6 linked regions of the Homo sapiens genome follow. The protein of the gene in region 1 interacts with the protein of each later gene in a biochemical or structural test. Each region holds a gene or a part of one and is shown on either strand. Other genes may lie near its edges. The genes, in order: RIOK1, SLX9, PNO1, BUD23, RPS21 and RRP12.

Region 1 (2,522 bases):
CTCAGAAGTCTTGGGACCCACATTGTATAAGGTTTAAAGGATTAGACTAAGATGGAATAATAATAGTCACATAGCACTCAGTCAGCAGTGTCTCTATGTCTATGGCTAGGGATTAAAGAAATACAAGAGTCCCTTCTTATCCATGGGGGATATGTTCCAAGACTCCCAGTGGATGCTTAAGACTGTGGATAGTGCCAAACCCTATATATACTATGCTTCTACCTATACATACGTACCTATGATGAGGTTTAATTTATAAATTAGGCACAGTAAGAGATAATAACTAATAACAGAATGGTAACAATATACTATAGTAAAAGTTATTTGAATGTGGTCTCTCTCTCCAAATATCCCACAGTATCATACTCATGTGACAGTAGCTTCTTCATTGGCAGATGCAGCCTCTCTGGTAATTTTTCTATTTTTTAGTCCAAACCTATTCCTGAATCTGTGTAACTATTCCTTACAGTAAATGGCCTGGTGGCACTCATTTCAGGGGAACCCTTGCTGAAACCTTTGAAACCTTCGTATAGGCTCAGTGCTTTCTGGTGCAACATGGTGCCATCAACTGGAAGATGTTTTTGTTTACGTCTTTCACCCACAAATTTCATGCCTTTTCCATCTTAACTAAGCAGTTATCACATGCTATGGTCCTAAGTTTTGCAGTTTGGGGTGAGACAGCAAAACCAGCACAAACATCTTTTTCCTTCTCCACAATGTCACGGATAAAAGATTCTCACCAGCAACTTCAGCATATGATTCTTTTCCTTTTATTTATTTTTTTGAGACAGAATCTCACTCTGTCACCCAGGCTGGCGTGCAGTGGCATGATCAGCTCACTAGAACCTCAAACTTCTGGACTCAAGGGATCCTCTTGCCTTAGCCTCCCAAGTATTTGGGACTACAGGTGCTCATCACCAATGTTTTAATAGAGACGGGGTATCACTCTATTGCCCAGACTGGTCTGGAGTGATCCGCCCTCCTTGGCCTCCCAAAGTGCTAGGATTACAGGCATGAGTTCCTTGTTAAGTCAAGAATGGTCACCTTTCCACTTAAAGGAAGCATTTTATGGCTTCTCTAAAGCATACCTGAAATTCCAACATCACTACTCCTGTAATTTACGGTCATTATTAAGCAAAGTAAGGGTTACTTGCACACAAGCACCACAACATCACAGCAGCTGAACTGATAGCCAAGAAGGCTACTAAGTGACTAACGGGTGGGGAGTGTCGACAGTGTGAAGACGCTGGACCACGTGATGATTCACATTCCAGGCAGGATGGAGGAGGACAGCATGAATTTCATCACACTACTTAGGACGGTGAGCAATTTAAAACTTATAAATTGTTTACTTCTGGAATTTTCCATTTAATATTTGCAAACCAAGGCTGACTGCAGGGAACTGAAACAGTAGAAACTGAAAGCATGGATGGGGGGACTATTATATGGTCTTTCAGATTCCAGAAACATCAAGCTGGGCTATAAATCCCCCTGAAATGGCTCTTCAGTATTTACCCTGGGTCAACTCTAACATCACTTGTACTTCATGTGAAATGTACTGAATTTAGTGCGTGCTCTCTCTAGGCAATGCCCAAGGTGCTCTGATGAGCAGCCCAATCTCAAGATAATGTTACCACCAAAAGTCAAGTTCACACTTAGGTATTAAAACTGTAATTAGAGGTACTTATCAATAATGTTTTCAGCCATCATAATCTAGCTAGATCCTTGAGCAAAGAGAAATAAGAGCGGCTGTGCTCCCACACTAAAGAAAAGGGGAAGGTATTTCATTGCTTACTTTTTTATCAATGTCAGGGTCCGTGGTGTGTTTCTTGGGGCGGGCATGGTCTCCCTGCTCTTCAGAGTCTGTGTCAGAGCACTCAGAGCTTCCAATATCTTCTGAATCAGAACAAGTCCTTTCCTCCACTTGATTTTCTAGGAGTGCAGGGACCTTGAAATTATTAAAGAACCATGTTATTCTAAACAACACACAAACCAAGTTATGTGTTGTTGTTAAATGTGTTAATGCCAGAATTCAGATTTTAGGCTCGCAAATATATGTTAAAAACTAACATCCTGTACTGAAACATCAAAACACCAGAATGAACATCAGGAGGGAAACATGAAAGTAGCCACTCCAAGTAAGGCTCCAGAACATACTCAAATGAAGGAACCAGGGCTTTACTGCGTGACCTAGATCAACAACAGAGCTGTTCTCCTTCTTTCAGCTAATCAGGAGCATTTAGTTGGGATTGGGAAAGAGGCAAAATATACATAGAGGTAGAAAATGAAGATTTATATGGATAACTTCACAGCTGTTTTCCTGTGAACCACATTTCTAGCAATAAACTAATCCAATTGGGAGGGAAAACAATATGTGAAGAAGAGAAATTTTCATTACTTCCTGAAATTCAGCAGTTGTCTAATACAGCGCTTCCTAGCAGTTTTTAAGAGTGAGGTTTCCCTTTTATAAGAAAAAAACAGATCTTTAGAAGTCAATTGTACAACAAGATTTTCTAGCTTGC
Region 2 (3,657 bases), on another chromosome or scaffold:
TGAGATATACTATGTTCATGAATTTGAAGATCTGCTTTGCTAAGATGGTAATTCTGAACTGATCTATAGATTCAATGAAATCCCAATCATAACCCCACTAGGTTTTTGTTGTTGTTTTTAAAGAAATAGACAAGCTAATGATAATTTATATGGAAATGCCAAGGACTTAGAATATCCAAAACAACCTCAAGACAGACGAACCAACAAAAAGGACTTATGTTATCTGACTTCCAGATTAATCCTAAAGCTATGGTAATCAAGACAGTCTGGTTTTTGCTAAGGTACAACAAATAGATCAATGGAACAGAAGACAGCCTAGAAACAGATCCACACTTATGAGACTTTCTGATTTTTCACAAAGGCAACAAAACAATCCAATAAGGAAAGAAAAGTACTTATAACAAATGGTGCTGGAACAGCTGAATATCCATATTAGGGGGAAAAAAGGAACTTAACCACTAACACCACATAGACAAACAATTCAAGATAGAAAAAAAAAACCAATATGAAAGCTCAAACTATAAAGTTTTTAGAAGAAAACAGGAATAATATCTTCATGACTTGGGATTAGGCAAAGTTTTCTTAAATAGGACACACACACATACATATACACACACACAATAACTAATATAAATTAAACTTCTCAAAATTAAACTCTCGTTTATTTAAAAAAAAAAAAAAAGTTCTCACGCCTGTAATCCGAGCACTTTGGGAGGCCAAGGCGGGCGGATCACGAGGTCAAGAGATCGAGACCATCCTGCTAACACGGTGAAACCCCATCTCTACTAAAAATACAAAAAAATTAGCCGGGCACGGTGGCGGGTGCCTGTAGTCCCGGCTACTCAGAAGGCTGAGGCAGAAGAATCGCTTGAACCCAGGAGGTGTTGCTTGCAGTGAGCCAAGATCGCACCACTGCACTCCAGCCTGGCGACAGAGCAAGACTCTATCTCAAAAAAAAAAAAAAAGAAAGAAAATGAACAGGCAAGTCACAGTCTGGGAAAAACATCTGTAAAACACATATCCAACCAAAGACTGGACTCTAGGACAAAGAACTCTTAGAGCTCAATAATAAAAAGACAAAAAGCCTCATGAAAAATGAATTTCACTGACGCTGAAACACAAATGGACAGTAAGCACATGTAAATGCTCTTTTGGTGGCAACGGAAATGAGTACCACCGTGAGATACCATTTCATGATTACCAGACGGCCGAGGCTGAGGAGACGGCAGGCCATGTGTTGGCAAAGCTGAGGGCCAGGAGAACTCTCACAGGCTCTGGTGGGAGTGTGAGTGTACAACCACTCTAGAAAAGCGTCTGGCAGCTGCTTATAAAACTAAACATACACCTACCCTATGACCCAGCATTCCATTCCTCAGCACTTACCCAAGAGAAACGAAAACATGTCCACAAAAAGACTTGTAAAGAATGTTCAGAGCAGCCTTATTCACAGTAGCTAAAAATGGAAAAAAGCCCAGGTGCCCATCAGCAGGAAAGTGAGTAACAAATGGTGTATTCATACAATGAAATACTTCTCAGCAATCAAAAGGCATGGACTGCTGCTACATGCAGCCTGGATGGGTTTCAAAACCATTACGCTGAGCAAAAGCAGCCAGATGCAGAAAGAGTGCATCCTACATGATTCCATTTATACAGAGTCTAAGGCAAGAAAAGCTCAACTGTGGACGACAAAGGGTGACACAGCAGTTGTTACCTCTGGGGCCAGTGGGAGAGGTAATTGACTGGGGGGGTGCGTGACTGTCGGGGAATGGTGGTGATGGTCCATAACCTGAACAGGATTTCAGCTGCACAGGTGTCTACAACATTTGTCAGCAATCATTGAATGGCACACTTTAGATTTGCATTTCATTTTATGTAAATACAATCTTCAAAAGAAAAAGAAAAAAAAAGAACCATGAACTCTAGCAGAATTATTTGGGGTGGAGTGTACTGATGTCTGCCATTTACTTTGAAACGCATTTTTAAAAACCCATGTTGGTAGATGGACAGAAACTGCTAGATGAACGGTTATGTAATAAAGATTGTAAAATCTGTGTGGTGGGTACAGGGTATTCCCTATAAAATTCTTCCCACTTTCCTAAATAAAATTTTTCATAATAAAATACAAAGTAAAAGTAACTTGGGAAATGTAGCTAAAGCTGTATTTAGAGATAACTTACAGCCTTTCACTCCTGAACAAAACATATACAAACAGATAAGCAGAGTAACTGAAACCCAAAGAAAGCTAAAACGGGAGTGATCAAAATAAAAACAAATAATTTTGAAGACAAAAGAGTAGAATTGGTTATTAAATACATTAATTATTAAATGGAAGAGACAAAACTTCTTAATTTAATCAGAAATGAAGGTGGAGATACAAATAAAGAACGATAAAGAAAACAGAATATTTAATAAGAAGGCAACTAACATATGAAGATTGAGATCTGACTAAATTTGATCATTAACATTATTTAGAGACAAGGACCCACTCTGTCACCCAGGCTGGAGTGCACTAGTGCAATTACGGTTCACTGCAGCCTCAAACTCCTGGGTTGAAGCGATCTTCCTACCTCAGCCTCCTAAGTCGCTAGGACTAGAGGCTCAGAGGCATACACCACCTAATCTGACTAATTTTTACATTTTTTGTAGAGACAAGGTCTCGCTATATTGCCCAGGCTAGTCTGAAACTCCTGGGCGTAGGTGATCCTTCCATCTCAACCTTCCAAAGTGCTGGGATTACAGGCATGAGACACCATCCTCAGACAAATTCGATCATTTTATGAGTGGCCAAAATTGACTCAAGTTGTGAAAAAACAAAAAAAAAGGACCAAGTGCCATGGAATAAAATTTACACATCATCAAAGAATTACAGCCTAGAAAATCAGGGTCCAAATGGCCACAGTCCAGTAGCCCGTCCAAATCCACTTTCACAGCTATGCTAGGAACTGTGAAAAAGAAAATGGAGGAATGAATCATTTCCCTAAGAAATATCCAAAAAGGGATAGAAACCATAAAACTAATAATCACAAAAGAAACTGACAAAGTTTTCTAGGTCCTACCTCTGAAAAACATACATTTTCTTTAAAACCTCCAAGGAAAAAATAAAGCAGATAACATAAAAAAGAAAATATTCCAAATTAATTTCACAAAGTCAGCAGAATCACACTAAAAAGATAACCGAAAAATACAAAATAATTTTGACGAGAAACAATCTTAGAAAAACACTGGCAAATATCCAGCATCACGAAAAATAAGGAGATACTCCAAAACAACCTGAGTGGGAAGTGTGGCTTTCAGCCTGCGGAGACGTGCAGCTGGGAGCACGTGGCAAGGCTGACCTCAGAAAAGAGGGAGCCACAGGCCTGAAAGGGTCTGGGGACACCAGGGGCCCTGCCCACACCCACGCCGCTATGCGCAGACACTGTTTTCACCGCGGGCAAGGCCTGGAAGGATTTCACATACCACTGCAGGCACTTCTGAACCATAAAAACTCCACGAGCACAGGTTACTTCCACAATAAAAAATTTCACGGTGGGGAACAAAAATAGGTAATTTTTACAAACAAGGAGCCGAGAGCAGCAGCTTCCCAAGGCCGTCCTCCAAAGGGAGGCAGCCCAGCTCTGCAGGTGCCCACACGGACGGGGTGGCAGTGCCATCCAC
Region 3 (3,657 bases), on another chromosome or scaffold:
GAACTGACTGTGCAGACCGAAGTCAACTGATGCCTAAATCAGCAGCAGGAATATCAAGAAGCAGAACTCTGGGAAAGAGACTCCAAGAGGCAGGGGACAGGGAACCCAGGATGATGGCTGTGCAGCCAGAATGCACGCAGAAAGCATGGGGGCGTTTTTGGAACAGAACATCTCCAGGAGAGATTTCTCAAATATTAGATGCATTCGAATACATCAAGAGGAGATACAGACAACGTATAGCTTCTTACTGAATTAGTACGACGAAAATGAAGAAAGGACATAGACACATAAGAGTTACTTCCTCAAGTGAAAACAATGCTGCAAAAGAAAGATAAGGCAGTCACAGTATTTCACCTGGCTCAGCTATAAGTACACTGAGCACTGATTTCTGTTTTCAGGTAATACTGAACACGAATCTAACAAAAACCACAAGGGGACCATCAGGAGGACAGAGAAGAATAAATCGGAGTGACAGAAAGGCTGAGTGTGTGCAGTGGAAGTAAGGGGGTGAAAGACAGCTAAATCTTCATCTTTGATGGTAGAAAGTCAATAGTGAATCTGAAAAATAAGAGGCTGTATATGAACAAAATATCTGGAAATACAGAGACAAATAATTTTTTAAGATAAGCTAAAAGAGTTGAAATTGGTTCCCCTGAAAAGGGTGAAATGGAGGTAGGCAGTAGAAATTTTTGGCTTTTTTTTTTTTTTTTTTTTTTGAGACGGAGTCTTGCTCTGTCCCCCAGGCTGGAGTGCAGTGGCGCAATCTCGGCTCACTGCAAGCTCCGCCTCTCGGATTCTCGCCATTCTCCTGCCTCAGCCTCCCAAGTAACTGGGACTACAGGTGCCCACCACCACGCCCGACTAATTTTTTTGTATTTTTAGTAGAGACGGGGTTTCACCGTGTTAGCCAGGATGGTCTCGATCTCCTGACATTGTGATCCGCCCGCCTCGGCCTCCCAAAGTGCTGGGATTACAGGTGTGAGCCATCACGCCCGGCCAATATTTGGCTTTTTAAAACTATGTGTATGTTTAACTTTGATTAAAATTATTTAAAACAGAGCATGACAGATGAGGAAATAAAGACAACAAGAACAGATGGGAGTAGTTTTGCTGCACAAAGAACCAAAGTAATGGGGCAATAGTTGGAAAGGAATGGAGGCTTCAAGACACAGAGGCAACATCATTTCCCATCTGCTGTATTAAACATACCTGGAACCAATTGTTTTTAGTTTTCTATCTGGCTCACATTATACTTACTGTATTTTGCCAGGTTATTGGCAACTCATCAAAAATAACTTTTATAGGTACACAACAGCCCATCTAACAGCTTTATTATAATTAATATAAACTGTTAAACGTGGATTTCCAACTAGCCTGTCTACAGCAAAAGCAAGAGATAGTACATCTCTTAATTTCAAGTAGTCTGTAATTCAGTTTGTAAGAAAACACAAAAGATATAAGTAATTCAGTAGCAACATTATTCTCATAGCCACAAACTGAAAACAACCCAAAAGTCCATCTACTGTGACTGGATAAACAAGATGTAATACAGCTGACTTTTGAATAATAGGTTTGAACTGCACAGGTCCAGTTACACACAAATTTTTTTCAACACATATACTGGAAGATATTTTGGAGATGTGAAAAAACCCAGAGAGGAGCTAAGTATCGTAGAAATGTCAAAAAAATTAAGAAAAAGCTACGTCATGAATGCATAAACTGTATGTAGGTACTAGTCTATCTTATTTACTACCGTAAAATATACACAAATCTATTATAAAAAGTTAAAATTAAAACTTACGCACACAAACACAAGCCATATATGATGCCATTTGTAGTCAAGAGAAATGGAAACAAATGCAAAGATGCAGTATTAAATCATAACTCCATAAAATTAACTGTAGTGCATACTGTACGACAACTTCACAGCCACCACCTATTGCTCTTGTGGTGAGCTCAGGTGTTGCAAGTATCCACTTAGAATGCCATGTGATGCTGATCACATGTGATGCTGATTATCTCCCATAAGCAGTTTTGACTCTCCAATAAACTGTCTATCACAGTAGAAAGTGATTTCTCGCAGTTCTTGCCTATTTTTAATCTTAGTGCAATATTGTAAGCTTTGGGACCATAGGACCCACCCAACGTGGGTCCCACATAAAGTGCCACTAGTGATGTTGGGAGTGCTCCAAAGCAGCACAGAAAAGTCATGACAGTACAAGAAAAAGCTGAACTGGCCAGGCGCAGTGGCTCACACCTGTAATCCCAGCACTTTGGGAGCCCGAGGCGGGTGGACTGCGAGGTCACGAGATTGAGACCATCCTGCCTAACACGGTGAAACCCCATCTCTACTAAAAATACAAAAAAATTAGCTGGGCATGGTGGCAAATGCCTATAGTTGCAGCTACTCAGGAGGCTGAGGCAGGAGAATCCATTGAACCCGGGAGGTGGAGGTTGCAGTGAGCCGAGATTGCACCACTGCACTTCAGCCTTGGCGATAGAGGGAGACTCCATCTCAAAAAAAAAAAAAAAAAAAAAAAAAGAAAAAAGCTGAATTGCTTGATAGGTACTGTTGACTGAGGCCTGCAGTTGCAGTTGCCCACCACTTCAAGATAAATGACTATACCATAGGACCATTGTAAAAAAAAGAAAAGGAAATTCATGAAGCTGTCACTGCAGCTATAACAGCAGATATGAATACACCTGCAGTTTTGCCAAATACCCCTTTATCTTATAAAATAAAAATAAAGCCCCTAGGCGCCCAGGCAAGACAGAACAGACTGTGGCAATAAGATATCAAATTGTAAACAAGACCTAAGACCACCTGGGCAAGGGTTAAGTCATACACCCTACACTTAAAGAGTAAATGACATTCTAATTGCCACAGGATATTTTTTTTTCTCTAGCAGCTTAACAAGCACTGGCCTTGTGATAAACAATATTAAAACAATTACAGCTCACCAACAGCTAGATACAGATTGACCCCAGCTTCCCTCTTCCCACACTCTGTTCCACAAACAGTAACTACAGCTTTGATTGGACAAGAGACTGATCCCAGTAACATCTCCTGATAAGAGATCACTGACCATGGACTGGTACTACCAGCTTCCAGAGGCAGTGCATTCAGTTGTCATGTCCCTGTCCCTATTTCATCTTGTAACATACAGGATCTAATTGTCAGGTATTTTAAATGTTAAGTCTCCACCCCAAAGCGACCAGGGGTTGTACATTTACTCGGTATACAAGCATTAGGACCCCTCTTATATTCAGAGCTCCTCCTATAACCTGTTAAATAAGTATACTTGGCCAACGCATTCAGCATAAATTCCTGTCTCATCCTTTCCTCCTTCAGAGTGCCTGCTTTTGGTCTCTGCTGAAGGCTATACTTTCCAGCCTGTCAGAATGGCCACCCTGCAGACTGCAACCCTTTCTAAGAAATAAAGTTTCCTCTCCAAATTTATAGATCTTGTGATTCTTTTCTTGACAATCTCAAATTGGAAATGCAGCTTTTATGTGGGTGCAGGATTGTTCTAAGAAAGACACATCTATAGAGTCTAATATGATGGAGAAAAAAATTAAGTCATTATATGACAACTTACAGCAAAAGGAAAATGAAGGATCTAAAGCTGGAGAACTTAACGCCAGCAAAGGATGCTT
Region 4 (2,715 bases), on another chromosome or scaffold:
AGGGAAACTAAGGGAAATGAGCAAAGACCCAAGGGGTCAGGCAGCATAAACCTATGGTGGACGTGAGGAACATGCATGGCTGTGCCCAGCTGTGGGCCTTCCAAACACATGCATTTTGGGCTCATTTTTCCTCTTAAATGTCTTAAAGGTCTTAAGACCTTTCCCTCATGTCAACTGGACCTCAGATATAACCTCCCTCTTCACTACCTTATAATCAATTATTCATTCAGAAAAATACTGAGCACTTTTTACTAACAAGACACTATTTTTAATGTCAGGGATATAATACCAGTCCTCACCAAGTTTTCACTCTAGCTGGAGATACAAATAATAACCAAGTCAACTGGTATGTGTATGACTTAGAGCAGTGAAGGGTGTTAAGGAAAATCAACATGAGCGGGGAGCACAACTGCAATGAAGGCACTAAAAGAGCAATGACAAGATACAACTTACATTTTAGAAAAAAAGAAAAAGACCAGTCTTGCTGCTATGCAGAAAATAATCTGAAAGAGGCAAAGACTGCAAAGGCAAGGAGACAACACAGGCAGCTGTTCAGCAATCCAGGCTAGGGGCAGTGCTGGATTAGGCTCGTTGGAAGCAGGGAGGGTCAGCACGGGGATACACACTGAGGGACGGACAGCAGGGCTCAATGACAGGCTGACAAGATGTGAAATGTAGGGAAAGACAGGAATGATCAAGAATGGTAAAGAATGGAGGATGAGGCCAGGCGCAGTGGCTCACACCTGTAATCCCAGCACTTTGGGAGGCCGAGGCGGGCGAATCACGAGGTCAGGAGTTTGAGAACAGCCTGGCCAACATGGTGAAACCCTGTCTCTACTAAAAACACAAAAAATTAGTTGGGCGGGCGCCTGCAATCCCAGCTACTCGGGAGGCTGACGCAAGAGAATCGCTGGAACCTGGGAGGCAGAGGTTGCAGTGAGCCGAGATCAAGCCACCGCACTCCAGCCTGGGGGGAAAGAGTGAGACTCCATCTCAAAAAAAAAAAAGAATGGAGGATGGCCAGGCATGGTGGCTCACATCAGTCATCCCAGAACTTTGGGAGGCCGAGACAGGGGGATTGCTTGAGGCCAGGAGTTCAAGATCAGCCTGAACAACATGGCAAGACCTCATCTCTACCAAAAACTTTAAAAATTAACCAGGCATGGTGGCATGCACCTGTAGTCTCAGCTACTTGGGAGGCTGAGGCAGGAGGATCATTTGAGCCCAGGAGTTCGAGGCTGCAGTGAGCTAAGATTCCACCACTGCACTCTAGCCTGGGTAACAGAGAGAGACTACCCATGGAAACTCCAGGTATAGACACTGAGGGGGCATTGGGAAACCCCAGGTGGCAAGAGACTGAAGATACACATTTGGGAATTAGGACCTTCCGGCTGGCATTTACAGCACCACAGGTAGAGAAGGGATCCAATCCAGGCTGGGCCCAGCACTCGAAGAGGAAGCAGCAGTGGAGTGAGGAGCAGCCAGGAAGGCTGAGGAAACCACGATGGTGGGTGGAAGGCCAAGTGAAGGAAGCGTCAAGGAGGGAGCGCACTGCTGTCTTTGACCCTACCGAGCAGGCACATTAAGGACATGAAAAAAAGTCACAAGTGACCAGATGTGGCTTGATGGAAATTGGTGGTGGAGTTGACAAGAACAATTTGTGATGAGACAGAATTGTCAGCCTGAGAAGTGGATTGAGAGAATGGTGGGAGGGGAAGAAGAGGCAGGTCTGAGTTCTGCTATGAAGGGAAGCAACAACGGGGTGGTTAGTTGTTGTTATGGGGTTAAGGAAGGAACTTTTCTAGAAAAGGAGAAATTGTGCAGCATGTCTGTGTGCCGACAGCAGTGACCCAGGAGAGTCAAGATGAGGATGCAGGAAGGAAGGGAGAGCCACAGCACCCAAGGGAGAGGGTCCCAGATGCAGGTGGAGGGCAGCATCAGAAAAGAAGGAGACAGCCTGCCAGGCGTGGCAAGGGGAAGGGGCATGTGTGGGCTCACAAAGGGAGTCCAGGCTGCATGGCTGCACCCAGACATCCAGGACCCCAAACCCCTAGCCCCAAACAGGCACAGTCCAAATGGGACCTGATGTTTCTACCGTCACCTTGGTGTCCCTGCTGCATGTGACCTGAGAGGCTTGGGTGAGGGCAGAGAGAAAGTCCATGTCTAACAAATGTGGCAGCCCCCGCTGCAGCCGGGGCAGGCTTCAGCAGTTGCTTTACCTCTCATTGGTGAACACAGACTCCCTGGGTTCAACTTCATCCTGATTTTCACTCAGCCCCTGCAGGAACCAAAGTGCACTCAGGTCACCCTGGAGAGTTCTCAAACCATCTGCCCCACTCCAGAAGCCCAGGCACCCAGGCCTGACCCTTCCGACAGGGACGAGGTCCAGTCCCACGAGAAGGAACTGACACGCCTTTCTGGGACCTGCAGAGCAGAGGTCTCTGCCTCCAGATTCCAGAGGATGTGAGCACTCCAGGGTCTGCACTCTGGGGCTGGGCCCTGCTTCCCCACCAGTGTTCTCCCAGCAGGCTCTGCAGGCTGAGCCCCACTGCCTGGAAGTCAAAAGACACAGGCCTGCCTGCAAACCCAGTGTCCCTCACCTCTGGTATAAAGGTCGAAGGCCCAGAAAACAAGCAGAGGTAGAATCTGAAAGGAGAAAGTGCAAAGTGAGGGTTGGGTGGAGAAAGCCCCACAGGGAGACAAGCCCTCAGCTCC
Region 5 (3,349 bases), on another chromosome or scaffold:
GGACACGTCTCCATGGTTTTTCCTACACATGAATGCGAGAAATGGCTGATAAGCACAGTAATTTAAGATTGCGTATTCATGTAGTGAGATTTAGTCATTAACCAACCCGGTCTTTGTGATGTGTGAAGCCTTCCCTTCAGTTATGTCCCATTTTTATGATGCCAAAAGCTGCCACTGTGTGGTATTCGAGGATTATTGCAACAAAGCCAGTAGTTAAACCAAACTACAGTCTCAGCCTGTCATTCTCTAGAACACATCCAGGTGTCGGAGCTAAGGTGTTCAGCTCGGCTGTGACTATACAGAACCAGGCCTGGCGTTGCTTCCGCACCGGTAGCAGTTGTGGATGTCAGTGTGCATAAGCAAGTATCAGACCTCAGAATGTTTGAGTTATTTTGTCTTAGATATCTGTTTTTAAATGGATAATGTATTTGTCCTTTAAACCTCAGTTTTGCAATATGTTTCACAGCTTGTCTCCTTTCAACTAACTGGGTACCCTACCCCACCCGTCACCCACTGACAGCAAAACCTCAACCCTGGGCCTACAGACACAGAATGAACCTGCACAGGTAGGTTTTCATTATTTATTTATGACAAATATTCCACATCTGTGATTCTCTCCAGTCAAAAGTTCCTAGAACCAGGGGAAAAGGACAACGTTAAGACCACGCCTCTGGAGCAGTCCTAGTCCACTCACTCTGCCCAAATGTGAGCCCCCAACCTTACTTTGAGACGATGCCATCGGCCTTGGCCAATCGGAGAATGGAATCATCTGACTCACCCTTAAGAAAAAAAAAAAAGCACACTAAGAATATTTCCACTCCGGCTGCCTGAGATGGCAGAAGGTCAGCTGTGCCACCAGCCCACGTCTCTCCCCCGCTGAGCGAATGGAGACAGGCGCAGAAGGGGAGCCACCTCTCCCGGGGCAGCCTGCAGCCTGACTATGGTGGAGCGGGGTCGGGGGGGCACCTCCTAGTGAGAGGCAGAGTCTGCTGCCTGAGTGTCTTCTCAGAGCACCCCTCTTCCACCCTCAAGAAGCGGCAGGCGGCCAGCCCAGTCCAGCTGGCTCAAACTACTCTGCCAGCAGATCTACTCAGGCACCATCACACACTCCAATGCGCACGGTAAAGTCCACGATGTCCCGAAGTGATGAGCAAAGCCCAGGGAAACACTCACCATCCTACGAATGGCCCCGCAGATAGCATAAGTTTTAAACTGGCCATTAAACCTGCCTGTGACCTTGTCAACCTAGAAAGAGAAGAAGGGTCACAAACCACTCCCCCAGGTTTGGGAAACACCAATCCTCAAAGCCAGCCTCTGCCTGTACCTTCACCCCAGGGGCTCCTCCACAATGGGACAGCCTGCCTTTCCCGCACATATATCACAACCTTCCCGCCTCCCGGGCTCCCAGCTCACCTCGGCCACGTTCATCTGGATGGATGCGTGGTCCTTGGCACCGATGATGCGATTGCTAGCGGAGCTGTGGAGAAAGGGCGCAGTGAGCAGAGGGGACTTGGGCGGTAAGAATGAAAGAGGGGACGAGGGAGGTTGGGGGTATATGAATGGAAAAGAGTAACGTCGGGGGCAGGACAAGTTAGGGACGTGACGAGGTAAGGACGGGAGGGGTGTGGGGGAACAAGGGCAGGCGAGGGGACGTGGTGGTTAGGTAAGGACGGAAGAGAGGCATGTGGGGGGCGCTTACCATTTCCGCGGCACGTACAGGTCCACGAACTCGCCGGCGTCGTTCTGCATTTCGAGGCTGGGCTGCGCCTGGGGAGTCACCGCGCGGCGCCGTGAGTACGGCCGGAACCGTGCCCCGGCTCCCGGCGCAAACCGGCCCCTAGGGTCACGGCCCCAGCCGCACCCAGCACCCCGCACCCCGTCCCCCGCGTCCAAGCCCCCACTCCCGCCCCAGCCCCAGCCCTGAGCCCGAAGCCCGCGCCGCGCGCCACACCTGCTGCCACCACACCGCGCGCGAGAGAGAAAGGAAGCAGCTAGTCACCCGGCAGAGATATCGGCGGGCAAGGAGGGGCCTCGGCGAGCGCTTCCGGGTCACGCCACCACAGCGAGTCTGCGCGGTGCGTGCTTGCCGGCCGTCGCCGTGACGCACTTCCGCTTCCGGCAAGGAGGTTCTCGGACCCCAGCCTGCTGGCCCTGGGGCGCGGGGCGTCGTGGGGGTCGTTGTCGTTGAGGGTCGTTGCCGTGTGTGGCGTCTTAGCCTGGCCCCTGGGTTGTGCCCCACGGACGCAGTCGACCCCTCTGAGCGCCTCGGGAGCCCCGAATAGCAGCTGGGAGAAGGGGCGAGGACTGAGCCTCGCTGCCCGCTGCCGGCCGGGCTAGAGATACGGGCGTGCCCCCCATTGTGCGCCTCCCGCCCTCCGGTCCCCTCACCCTGCGGCCACCTGGGGCGTGGGGCGGTGCTCCTGCCCGTGCACGTAGCCGCTGCGAGCGGAGGCCTGCTCACCTGGTGCCTGCTACTCACTCCCCCGGGCCGGTGGGCGAAGGACACCCGCAGGAACTCGGCAGAGGAGAAATTCAGACGGCTCCCGAGGGTAGGAAAAGACCCCGGCCCACCGTGGAATCTGAAACACCCGACCACTCTGCCATCCCATGTTTCACCAGTCAGACCCCCAGGGCAGGGCAGGGGAAGCAGAATGCAAACTGGGGCACCGTTTCCCTGAAGCGTGTTGGCCGCGTTTGTCGTAGTGCTAGAGGTGCATACCCTTGGACCCCGAAAACCCATTCCTGGGAATTTGCTCCAAGGAAGTAAAGATGTTACAAAGATGGACCCACGAAGTATGGTCGTTGGTTATGGGTGGGGTCTTGAGGAAGGCCTTGTTAGTAGCCTGAACCCTGTTGCCAGGAGAAGCTCCAAACCGGTAGACGGAGGGAGCAGCGCGGCCTATGTTGGGGTCTTCTCTGGGCGGGGGACATGATCCTAGGATGTAGAACTAGCCTCAGAAAACTTAAGACTCAGTGGCCAGGTGCGGTGGCTCAGGCCTGTAATCCCAGCGCTTTGGGCGGAGGTGGGTGGATCACCTGAGGTCAGGAGTTCGAGACCCGTCTGGCCAACATGGTGAAACCCCATCTCTACTAAAAATACAAAAAATTAGCTGGGCGTGGTGGCAGGCGCCTGTAGTCCCAGCTACTCGGAAGGCTGAGGCAGGAGAATGGCGTGAACCCGGGAGGCGGAGCTTGTAGTGAGCTGAGATCCCGCCACTGCACTCCAGCCTGGGCGACAGAGCAAGACTGCGTCTCAAAAAAAAAAAGTTTTTTTATGTTTAATTTTTTGGGTACATAGTGGGTGTGTACATTTATGGGGCACATGAGATATTTTCATACCGGCATGCAG
Region 6 (3,657 bases), on another chromosome or scaffold:
ACATCTGTAGGCCTTGTGCAGAACCCAGGCAGGAGTGTCCACATCTGGAGAAGGAGGGGACAATAAAGGAAGGTGACACGCAGCCACCTGTGCCCCTGTGTGCTTCTCCCCACGCCCTCCCCCAGCTGACCCTTACCTGCCACTGGAGTGTGTCGTAGATCTTAGATTCCACTGTGCTGCCTGCCTGAGCCAGGTCCATGGCTGCAGTGTGACAGAGGGACAGAGTGTGAGCCCAGCACCCTCCTGGCCAACAGCCTTATTTACCAAACCAAACCAAAAGCCCAATGATGAGGACAGGAATATGGGTGACTTCCCCCCATCTCCATGAATTAAATCATACTTGTTCATTCTAAAATACTCAAATGAACCTATAATAAACAGAAAGCAAACGTCTCTCCATACTCTTACTCCCCCAGAGATAGCCTCTGTTTCTTGTTACTTTTTTATACTTCTTTAAACACATGCCCAATTTTTTTTGTTTGTTTGTTTTGTTTGAGACAGGGTCTCACTTTGTGGCCTAGGCTGGAATACAGTGGCGCAATCTGGGCTCACTGCAGCCTTGACCTCCCAGGCTCACGCGATCCTCCTACCTCAGCCTCCCAAGAAGCAGACTACAGGCGTGCATGCCACCACACCCACCTAACTTTTTGTAGACGTAGGGTTTCACCATGTTGCCCAGACTGGTCTCGAATTCCTAAGTTTGAGCGATCCATGTGCCTCGGCCTCCCAAAGTGCTGGGATTACAGGTGTGCAACACTGCACCCAGCCACATGCCCACTTTGTAAAACATAAACAGGGGCTGGGTGCAGTGGCTCACACCTGTAATCCCAGCACTTTGGGAGGCTGAGGCGGGCAGATCATGAGGTCAGGAGATTGAGACCATCCTGGCTAACATGGTGAAACCCCGTCTCTACTAAAAATACAAAAAATTAGCCGGGAGTGGTGGCAGGCACCTGTAGTCCCAGCTACTCGGGAGGCTGAGGCAGGAGAATGGAGTGAACCCGGGAGGTGGAGCTTGCAGTGAGCCGAGATCGTGCTATTGCACAACAGCCTGGGTGACGGAGCGAGACTCTGTCTCAAAAAAAAAAAAAAAAAACCATAGGGAGGAATATACTATATATATAGCATTCTGTAACCTTGTTTACTTGACAATAAAGCTGGTAACATTTACTGAGCAAGTACTATGTGGTAGTCTGTAATGAGCACTTCACATGACTTTTTCATTTAATCCTCACAAAACTTGCCCATTTTAAGATGAGGAGCAGACCCTGGGAAATTAAACAAAACCTGCCCCAAGCCACGAACTGTGGAGCGGCGGAGTTGGGATATAAACCGTGTCTGTTCGACTCACCATCTGCTAAACTTGTCTGTCCCTACCTAGTGGTTTCTTTCTTTCTTTATAATGCCTACATCATATCCCAAAGTGGGACTTAAAAAATATTTTTGTAGAGACGGAGGTCTCACTCTGTTGCCCAGGCTGGCCTTGAACTTCTGGGCTCAAGAAATCCTCTTTCCTCAGTCTCCCAAGTAGCTGGAACTACAGGTGAGCCTACCACACCTGGCTAACTAAAAAAAAAAAAAAAAAATTTTTATAGAGACAGGGTCTTGCTATGTTGCCCAGGCTGTTCTTGAACTCTTGGCCTCACACAATCCTTCTGCCTCAGACTCTCAGAGTGTTGGGATTACAGGCGTAAGCTGCTGCATCTGGCCAAAAGTAGGGCTTTACCATAACTAATTTAACTGGAACCCTAATGAGAAAGATACTAGATGTGTTACAGTTTTTGCCAGTATAAGCCAATACTGTCAGGCACGTCTTTGCTAGGAACATAAATCAGTACGCACTTGTCTATCTTCTCAGGACAGATACCTGCGTGTAGTATTACCAGGACAAAGGGAATACATAACATCAGCCTTAAGAATAATGCCAGGGTTTATAGGTAACATTAATGATGGTAATGACCCTCATTTTGGGGGTTCATCTGTATTTTCTTTGATGGGCATATATTTCTATTGAAAATAGAACAAATTTTTCCTTTTTAATATCAGGAAAAACTTTAAGTTACTAATATGTGCACATTAATTCCAACAGAGTAGAAATACAATACTATTTTTACACAGAAAAAAATGCAGCCAGACATGGTGGCTCACACCTGTAATCCCAGCACTTTGGGAGGCCAAGGCGGGTGGATCACTTGAGGTCAGGAGTCCGAGACCTGCCTGGCCAACATGGCGAAAACTTGTCTCTACTAAAAATAAAAAAATTAGCGAGGGGTGATGGTACACGCCTGTAGACGAAGCTACTCAGGAGGCTGAGGCAGAATTGCTTGAAAACCTGGGAGGTGGAGGTTGCAGTGAGCCAAGATCGCACCACTGCACTCCAGCTTGGGCAACAGAGCAAGACTCTGTCTCAAAACAAACAAACAAACAAACAAACCGACCCAAACAAAGCAAAGGAAAATACATTAAAAACTTGAGTAGTAACAATTTCTGGGTGGGAAGACTGAATGACTTTTACTTTCTTTTTTTTTTTTTTTTTTTTGAGATGAAGTCTCGCTCTGTCTCCCAGGCTGGAGTGCAGTGGTGTCATCTCGGCTCACTGCAACCTCTGCTTCCTGGGTGCAAACGATTGTCCTGCCTCAGCCTCCCAAGTAGCTGGGATTACAGGTGCGTGCCACCATGCCCAGCTAATTTTTGTATTTTTAGTAGAGACGGGGTTTCTCCATGTTGTTTAGGCTGGTCTCGAACTCCTGACCTCATGATCTGCCCGCTTCAGCCTCCCAAAGTGCTGAGATTACAGGCACGAGCCACTGCGCTTGGCCTTACTTTCTTCTTTAAGCACTTCCTGTATATTCTACAAGATCATGTGTGAAATCAGGAAACTGCCCTAGAGCAGGGTTTCTCAATCTTGACAATGTGGACATTTTGGGCCTAGTACTCTTTGTTGTGTGAGGTCGTCCTGTGCATTGCAGGGTGCTTAGCAGCATCCTGGCCTCTACCCACTAGATGCCAGAGCACCCATCCCCCAACGGTAACAACCAAAAATGTCTCCAGGCATTGCTGAATGTCCTACAGGCAGCAAAATCACCCTCCTTGTTGAGAACCACTGCCCTAGACCAGGAGTCAGCCAACTTTTTGTGCAAAAGGACCAGTACTTTAAGCTCGGCAGGCCATACAATTTCTTTCTTTTCTTTTTTTTTTTTTTTTGAGACAGAGTCTCGCTGTGTTGCCCAGGCTGGAGTGAAGTGGTGCGATCTTGGCTCACTGCAACCTCCGCCCCCCAGAGTCCAAGCGTTCTCCTGCCTCAGCCTCCCGAGTAGGTGGGATTATAGGCACCTACCACCATGCCTGGCTAATTTTTGTACTTTTAGTAGAGATGGGGTTTCATCATGTTGGCCAGGCTGGTCTCAAGCTCCTGACTTCAGGTGATCCACCCACCTCGGCCTCCCCGAGTGCTAGGATTACAGGTGTGAGCCACTGTGCCCAGCCCACGGTACGTATGATTTCTATCACAATAACTCTGTCATTAAAAAGTAGTGTGACAGGCTGGCCATGGTGGCTCATGCCTGTACTCCCAGCACTTTGGGAGGCCGAGGCAGGTAGATTTTCTGAGGTCAGGTGTTTGAGACCAGCCTGGCCAACATGGTGAAACCCCATCTG

Evidence for each region.
Region 2: the proteins of RIOK1 (region 1) and SLX9 are reported together in a solved structure, tested with the Homo sapiens proteins (one study listed by BioGRID).
Region 3: the proteins of RIOK1 (region 1) and PNO1 are reported together in a solved structure, tested with the Homo sapiens proteins (one study listed by BioGRID).
Region 4: the proteins of RIOK1 (region 1) and BUD23 are reported together in a solved structure, tested with the Homo sapiens proteins (one study listed by BioGRID).
Region 5: the proteins of RIOK1 (region 1) and RPS21 are reported together in a solved structure, tested with the Homo sapiens proteins (one study listed by BioGRID).
Region 6: the proteins of RIOK1 (region 1) and RRP12 are reported together in a solved structure, tested with the Homo sapiens proteins (one study listed by BioGRID).

The regions. Positions count from the first base shown.
Region 1 is NC_000006.12:7,413,664-7,416,185, reverse strand, and holds part of RIOK1 (serine/threonine-protein kinase RIO1), read right to left. Parts: intron 1,949-2,522; coding exon 1,796-1,948; intron 1-1,795. UniProt on the Homo sapiens protein: Involved in the final steps of cytoplasmic maturation of the 40S ribosomal subunit. Involved in processing of 18S-E pre-rRNA to the mature 18S rRNA. Required for the recycling of NOB1 and PNO1 from the late 40S precursor.
Region 2 is NC_000021.9:44,960,401-44,964,057, reverse strand, and holds part of SLX9 (ribosome biogenesis protein SLX9 homolog), read right to left. Parts: intron 1-3,657. UniProt on the Homo sapiens protein: May be involved in ribosome biogenesis.
Region 3 is NC_000002.12:68,167,807-68,171,463, reverse strand, and holds part of PNO1 (RNA-binding protein PNO1), read right to left. Parts: intron 1-3,657. UniProt on the Homo sapiens protein: Part of the small subunit (SSU) processome, first precursor of the small eukaryotic ribosomal subunit.
Region 4 is NC_000007.14:73,693,555-73,696,269, reverse strand, and holds part of BUD23 (18S rRNA (guanine-N(7))-methyltransferase), read right to left. Parts: intron 2,647-2,715; coding exon 2,601-2,646; intron 2,279-2,600; coding exon 2,220-2,278; intron 1-2,219.
Region 5 is NC_000020.11:62,385,739-62,389,087, reverse strand, and holds RPS21 (small ribosomal subunit protein eS21), read right to left. Parts: upstream 1,986-3,349; 5' UTR 1,952-1,985; intron 1,768-1,951; 5' UTR 1,750-1,767; coding exon 1,700-1,749; intron 1,478-1,699; coding exon 1,414-1,477; intron 1,246-1,413; coding exon 1,174-1,245; intron 780-1,173; coding exon 724-779; intron 632-723; coding exon 622-631; 3' UTR 568-621; downstream 1-567. UniProt on the Homo sapiens protein: Component of the small ribosomal subunit. The ribosome is a large ribonucleoprotein complex responsible for the synthesis of proteins in the cell.
Region 6 is NC_000010.11:97,373,694-97,377,350, forward strand, and holds part of RRP12 (RRP12-like protein), read right to left. Parts: intron 202-3,657; coding exon 137-201; intron 45-136; coding exon 1-44.